Homo sapiens: one gene and its partner. The protein of the gene in region 2 purifies or fractionates together with the protein of the main gene of each other region. This does not show direct contact. Each region holds a gene or a part of one and is shown on either strand. Other genes may lie near its edges.

Evidence for each region. Proteins that work in one complex are often made in the same cells at the same time.
Region 1: the proteins of SFSWAP (region 2) and PAGE2B purify together in Homo sapiens (affinity purification with mass spectrometry; one large-scale study listed by BioGRID and IntAct). This does not show direct contact.

Annotation. Positions count from the first base shown.
Region 1 is NC_000023.11:55,073,647-55,077,829, forward strand, and holds the start of PAGE2B (putative G antigen family E member 3), read left to right. Parts: upstream 1-1,383; 5' UTR 1,384-1,468; exon of another isoform or gene 1,469-1,610; intron 1,611-2,373; exon of another isoform or gene 2,374-2,387; coding exon of another isoform or gene 2,388-2,395; coding exon 2,396-2,479; intron 2,480-2,922; coding exon 2,923-3,031; intron 3,032-3,752; coding exon 3,753-3,878; intron 3,879-4,183.
Region 2 is NC_000012.12:131,791,090-131,794,589, reverse strand, and holds part of SFSWAP (splicing factor, suppressor of white-apricot homolog), read right to left. Parts: intron 1-3,500.

The DNA.
Region 1 (4,183 bases), on a different chromosome or scaffold from region 2:
TGCTTCTTCCTGTTCACGAGCATGGAATGTTTTTCCATTTGTGTCATCTCTGATTTCTTTGGGCAGTGTTTTGTAGTTCTCATAGTGGAGATTGTTCTCCTCCCTAGTTAGCTGTATTCCTAGGTATTTTATTCTTTTTGTGGCAATTGTGAATGGGATTGTGTTTCTGATTTGGCTCTGTGCTTGAAGGTAGTTGGTGTACAGAAACACTCCTGGTTTTTGTACATTAATTTTGTATCTTGAAGCTTTCCTGAAGTTGTTTATAAGATCAAGGAGCTTTTGGGCAGAGATTCTGGGATTTTCTAGGTATAGAATCACATGGTTTCCAAACAGATTGTTTGACTTGTGTGAAAAACATAGTGGAGTAGAAGCAAACACGTGTCAGCAATGGAATAGAAAAATAAAAGTGCCCATGAATAAATTTAATTTGAATGTGAAGAACTAATATGAAGCAAATAACACAGTCATTGTGTGGGATATGTTAAAAGACTTGAGGAATTGAGGAGTGGCTTTTTTTTGATAGAGAGATTCTAAAATAGGAAGATGGCTATTGTCCCAGAGTTAACATGTAATATAAAAATAATAACTAGTATCTCAACAGGAATATTTTAGCACCTGATCAAATGATTCTGAAGTTCATCTGAAAGACCAACGTGTCAGAATTGATAGAAAAGGAGAAATCAATGAGGGAGGGCAAGCATTATTTCACATTTCAAATATAATTTAAGCTACAGCAATTAAAATAGTGTAGTAGTGGTACAGGTATAAACAACTCAATGGAAGAAAATTAAAAGAAGAGAGTTACATACAAAATTGAGTGGGGATGTAGGTGATGATAAAAGAGCCATTTCAAAACAGTGGGTGCAACAGGGATTCAACAAATAATGTTGAGTTCCTACCACTTTAATTTTGTCCAGATGGATCAAAGATTTTGAACGTACAATAATGCAACCAAAAACTATGAATGTCTTATATTGGAATGGGTTAGACAATTGCAAGCATGACAGCAAACTCGTGAAGGAGGCAAGAAAATGATTTATGGAAGCGTATATAAAACAGATATTAAAATATTTAAGATTTATTTCTATGATGGTGAAGTTTTCTGAAACACATTATTAGAGTAACCTGGGGCTCATATTCTCCAAAGCCACTGGAAGTGAAAGAAAGGGTGGGCGGGGGAAAAAGAAAAGTGCTTTGCAAGTTCATTTTCGTTGTCAGGAGCGCTGGTGGTTTAGGTTCTCCACAGACGCAGGAAAACATCAGTCACGAGGCGAATGTCCCAGTCAGTGTGCATGCTGCACAGACCTGTTGCTGCACTTGTCTGTTGTTACGCATGTCTGTTGCTACACGTGTCTGTTGTTGCGCATGCGCCTTGCTGCCCGCCTTCTGTCCACACACAGCTCTGCAAGGAGAGTGTCTTCATTCTTTCCGCCATCTTGATTCTTTGTCACTGACCGAGACTCAGCCGGTAGGTCCGCAGAGCGGTCTTCCTGGGAATTTAGTTGTGGGTGAATGTGTGGAGGAGCCAGCTGGCTTTGGACAGGTCCTGCGGCACAGTCCGTGGCTTCCGAGGGAAAAGGGCCTCGCGGTCGTCGTCCGGCCCCTCCCAGGTCGGGATGCCACCGTGGGACTTGTCGTCGTGGCTGGGCTGGGACGAGGGACGAGGGAGGAAGGTGGGCCACAGAGGGGAGGGATCGCGTGAAGATGGGGCGAGTGCTGGGGGTGCTGTTAGAGGTGTCTGAGTCTCGAAAACTCCTGGAACCCTCTGAGAGAGGACAGTTTCCAGACTCCTCGGTAGGGACGCGGGAAGAGACCATGTGGTCAGTAAGGAAGGGGCCTGGGAACTGGGAACGCTGTGGGCCGGTGACTGTGGCCCCGAGGTCTGTAGAGTGCCTGGCAGAGGTGTCCCGTGAGGAGCATAACGTTCACTCTGTTTCACAATTTCTCACCTCCGCCATGGACGCCATGGAAGGAATGGGCGAGGCTGTGCTTTCCAACAAGACTTGATTTTGAGAGAGGTGTGGGGGTGAAATGGGCCTAGCAAATCAGAGTGGGACAAAAGCAGTAGTCATTTCAGTTTCAATTCTCTGCCCTTTTTTCCCCCAAATGTCTTCATGATGGAGAGTCTAATTGTGAAACCAAAACGCAGAAATGTCCTCTGTCTTTTGCTATGGCGTTAAGGGGATTTCTATGCCTCTTCGACTATGATACAAACAAATCTGTCCTTAGTTTGATTGGAAAGCGTGGGTACTTATCAATGCTCTGTGAATTACGTTGAAAATATTTTCAAAATTAAAAAAATACAAATCACCATTTTGCCATGGAATGTTCATATATATAGCTAAGTTCTTATACACTTTTTCCAAATAACAGTATTCTATTTTCAGTGGGAAATATGAGTGAGCATGTGAGAACAAGATCCCAATCCTCAGAAAGAGGAAATGACCAAGAGTCTTCCCAGCCAGTTGGATCTGTGATTGTGAGTCCTTTAACATTTGATGTTTCCTATTAACACAATTTATTTTAAGAAATATTTTTGAGCTAGTGTACACGCACTGATACAGGTGTTCCATGCTGATAAAAAATGATGATGGCATCTCATGAAGGAAACGTTGGTTCAGGAATATTATATTCTGGTGTTACCTGTATGGATATGGATATTTCTCTCTCTCTCTCTCTCTATATATATATATGTGTGTGTGTGTGTATATGTATATATGTATATATGTATGTATGTATGTATATATGTATGTGTATATATGTATGTATATACGTATGTATGTATATATACATATATGTATATACATATATATGTGTTTATATATGTTGGAAAAATGTCTTTAGATGTGTGATTCGATGCACATATGCATTTGTGTATTTATATTATTGACTTTTTATTCACACACACACTTACACCCTTAGGTCCAGGAGCCCACTGAGGAAAAACGTCAAGAAGAGGAACCACCAACTGATAATCAGGGTATTGCACCTAGTGGGGAGATCGAAAATGAAGGAGCACCTGCCGTTCAAGGTGAAGGGAGAGTGGAGAATAATGCTTATGGGTGGTGGAGGTCTATTTATGCATTGTATTTTATGACATACCAGTAACAGGAGGACAGAAAGCATTAGGAAGGAATCTTAAACATTTCCTACTGCTGCTGTGTGGAGGGGTGGGACAAGGACGCATAAAAAGCCACTAAGCTTTCCTACCACTTTGACGGAGGCTTTTTATTGATTGGGTATTTTCATGGTTGCCATAAACCTTTTTCCAGAGCTCCTGTATGCTTTGTTCAGCCATTTTCTGTTTTTTGTTGCTGTGGAAGAATGGCAGCTTGCAGCTTCCTAGTCTGCCATCTGTGGACACGTCATGTATTTTTTAAGAAACTTTTTAACACACCTTTATTGATGCTTCCTCATACCACGTAATATACTAAGTGCTGGAGATGTCAGTGCCAAATTTTTGCCTAAAGCTCATAGTCTAGTCAGATTGACTCAAACAAATCGCTGATTTAATGTGATAAGAATAAGAACAAATGAGTACAAAAGGGACAAGTAAGTTGTCTAGGGCCAGCCTTGGGAAAGGAAAGGGCAATGTTTGAACATCTCTGCTTTCCTGTTTTCCTGGCAGCAGATTCCTGAAATAATTAGCCTACAGGTTTTTACTTCATAATGATGAGGGAATAAATATTATCATTTCCTTGTTCATAGTTCATGTTTTAATTTGTAAACTGATGACCTTTTTATCTTTTAAGGGCCTGACATGGAAGCTTTTCAACAGGAACTGGCTCTGCTTAAGATAGAGGATGAGCCTGGAGATGGTCCTGATGTCAGGGAGGGGATTATGCCCACTTTTGATCTCACTAAAGTGCTGGAAGCAGGTTTGTTATTCATTTAAGATGCAAACTATTGTATTTCTATTTTCACAGTATTTTGTGTGACACAGAGGTAAAATTACTGCTACTTTAATATCATACTTCACGTCTGAAGGTTCTTTGAATGTAGTTCAGACCCCAAATGGCTGCCTTACACACTATCAGGGATAGAGGGCCAGGTGTGGTGGCTCATGCTGTTAATTCCAGCACTTTGGGAGGCCGAGACAGAAAGATCACTTGAGGCCAGGACTTCCAGAGATGGAGAAAAATTGGGTCAAAGCTAATTGGATTACGATATGAAAGATATGAAA
Region 2 (3,500 bases):
CACGCTATGTCTGTGTTTGTTTGTTGGTTTGGCTTCTTGGTTTTCTGTTGTTTGTTTCTCAGTTTCCCTCTGTTGCCCAAACTGGAGTGCAGGGGCATAATCCCTGCTCACTGTAGCCTTGACCTCCCAGGCTCCAGTGATCCTCTTGCCTCAGCCTCCCAAGTAGCTGGGACGACAGGCAGACGCCACCACAAATGGCTAATTTTTTTTTTTTTTAAGTAGAGATGGGGGTCTCTACCAAAAAAAAAAAAAGCCTGCAAATCCTGGGCTCAAGCAATCCTCCTGCCTTGGCCTCCCAAAGTGCTGGGATCACAGGTGTGAGCCACTGTGGCTGGCCTGTGTCTGGCTGCTTTTGCTCAGCAAAGCATGTCTGAGACTCCTCCACGACGCAGGGTGATCCTCAATTTGTTCCTTTTACCGATGAATAGTATTACAGGACAGGACGCTACCATTATCTGTTGATTCATTCTCCTGTTAATAGAGATTTGGTTGTTTCCAGTTTTCGGTAATTATGAATCAAAGTGTTTTTGGTTAAATGTTGACTTTATAGAGGAGTTCACAGCTAGGAACAGGACAGCTGGTCAGGGAGTAGGTGTGTACTTAACGTCACAAGAAACTGCACACGTTTCCCAATCCAGTGTCTGAGAGCGCAGCCGCTGGGCCCGTGCCCACTCTCCCCCGAGCCCGTCCTGGTTTTTAGGGACGGGTGACCCCCGTCTAGTCCTGTCTCGTTGGTTGCATCAGCACGTCCCTGACTGGTGACTCATGCCGTTCCACATCTTTCCATGTGTGTACCGGCTATTTAAGAGATCCTTCTGTCAAGTCGGCTGGCTTCATCTGCCCCCTTCTAATTGGGTCCTTTGTCTTTTTGGTACTGACACAGGCTTTTGTCAGAGACACATGCAGCAAAGCCTGCGGCCTGCCTATTCATCTTCTTAACTGTGCCTTTTGAGAGAAGTTTTTAAACTTCAATGAAGTCTAATTGGTTTTTTCCTCTTATCAGAGGAGTTTCTACATCTTAAGGAATCTTTGCCACCCTCAAATTCATGAACATATTCTGTGTTTTCTTCAAAAAGCTTAATGGTTCTAGTTTTTGTTTAGATCTCTGATCCGCCCTGAATTAAATTTTGCATACAGCATGCAGTGCACTTTTTCCCCATTCCGATATCCAGCTGTTCATGCAAGTTTTGTTGGAAAGAGTTTCCTGGCTGGGTGCTGTGGCTCATGCCTGCAGTCACAGCATTTTCGGAGGCCAAGGTAGGAGGACTGCTTGAGCCTGGGAGTTCAACATCAGCCTGGGCAACATAGCGAGACCCTGTCTCTACACACAATAAAAAAAAATTAGCTGGGCATGGTGGTGTGTGCCTGTGGTCCCAGCTGAGGTGGGAGGATTCCTTGAGCCCAGGAGGCTGCAGTCAGCCGGGCTGAGTCGAGATCACACCACTGCTGCACTCCAGCTTGGGCAACAGAGTGAGACCCTGTCTCAAAAAAAAAAAAGACTTTCCTTTCTCTTTTTCCTCACTGAATCGCTGTGGCTGTGGTCCCGGCCCCCTGCCCTTTGGGTATGGAATTTTTTTTCTGTACTTTCTATTCCATCCCACTGCTCTATTGTATCCTCATGCTGACACCACACTGCCTTGGTTACTGTAGCTTTCTGGTAAGTCTTGAAATCCTGCTCTTTGTCAAGGAGGTTGTTTTGGGTCTCCCAGGTCATCTGCATTTCCACACACGCTTTGGAGTTTGTGTGCCAATTTCTAGAAAAGCCGTGGGAGCTCTGAGTGGGACTGCACTGCATCTCTGCGTCAACTTGTGGAGAACAGGAGTCTCAGTAATACTTAGTTGGCTAATATTTTGTGAAGTATTTTTGCATCTATGTTCTTGAGAGTCCTGGTCTGTGAACATATACTTATGGGCACACACAGCACTGGTCTGTGAACACACATGCATGTGCACCAGTACTGATCTGTGAACACACATGTGCACACACAGCACTGGTCTGTTAACACGCATGCACACCAGTACTGATCTGTGAACACACACGGGCGCACACACAGTACTGATCTGTGAACACACACGTATGCACACACAGTACTGGTCTGTGAACACACACGGGTGCACACACAGTACTGATCTGTGAACACACACATATGCACACACAGTACTGGTCTGTGAGCACACACATGCACACCAGTACTGATCTGTGAACACACACGGGCGCACACACAGTACTGATCTGTGAACACACACATATGCACACACAGTACTGGTCTGTGAACACACACGGGTGCACACACAGTACTGATCTGTGAATACACACATATGCACACACAGTACTGGTCTGTGAACACACACGGGCGCACACACAGTAATGATCCGTGAACACACACGGGCGCACACACAGTAATGATCTGTGAACACACACGGGTGCACACACAGTAACGATCCGTGAACACACACGTGCACACACACAGTACTGATCCGTGAACACACATGGGCGCACACACAGTAATGATCCGTGAACACACACGTGCACACACACAGTACTGATCCGTGAACACACACGAGTGCACACACTGTACTGGTCTGTGCACACACACGGGTGCACACACAGTAATGACCAGTGAACACACACGTGTGCACACAGTACTGATCCGTGAACACACACGGGTGCACACAGTACTGATCTGTGAACAGACAAGGGTGCATGTGCACACCCCCTCCCCCAAACACAGAATCCTTATCTGGCTTAGGTATGAGAGTTATGATGGACTCAAGAGATGAGATGGGAAGTGTTCCTTCATCTATTTTTTAAAAAAGAGTATCCCTTCTTTCTTTCTTTTTGTTTTTTGAGACGGAGTCTTGCACTGTCGCGGGCTGGAACGCAATCTTGGCTCACTGCAACCTCCGCCTCCCGAGTTCAAGTTATTCTCCTGCCTCAGCCTCCCAGGTAGCTGGGATTACAGACGCACACTACCACACCCGGTTAATTTTTTGTACTTATAGTAGAGACAGAGTTTCACTATGTTGGCCAGACTGGTCTCAAACTCCTGACCTCGTGATCCACCTGCCTCAGCCTCCTGAAGTGCTGGGATTACAGATGTGAACCATCGTGCCTGGCCCCTCCTTTCTTGAATGTTAGAATTCACTGGTGAAGCCATCTGGGACTGGAGTTTGGTGGAAAAGTTTCGTTTATTTTTCTTTGAGATAGAGTCTCACTTTGTCACCCAGGCTGGAGTGCAGTGGCACGATCTTGGCTCACTGCAGCCTCCGCCTCCCAGGTTCAAGCAATTCTCCTGCCTCAGCCTCCCGAGTAGCTGGGATTACAGGCACTTGCCACCACACCTAATTTTTATATTTTTAGTAGTGACGGGGTTTCACCATGTTGGCCAGGCTGGTCTTGAACTCCTGACCCCAGGTGATCCACCTGCCTTGGCCTCCTGAAGTGCTGAGATTACAGGTATGAGCCACCGCGCCAGGCCAGGTCTTGCTCTTTAATCCAC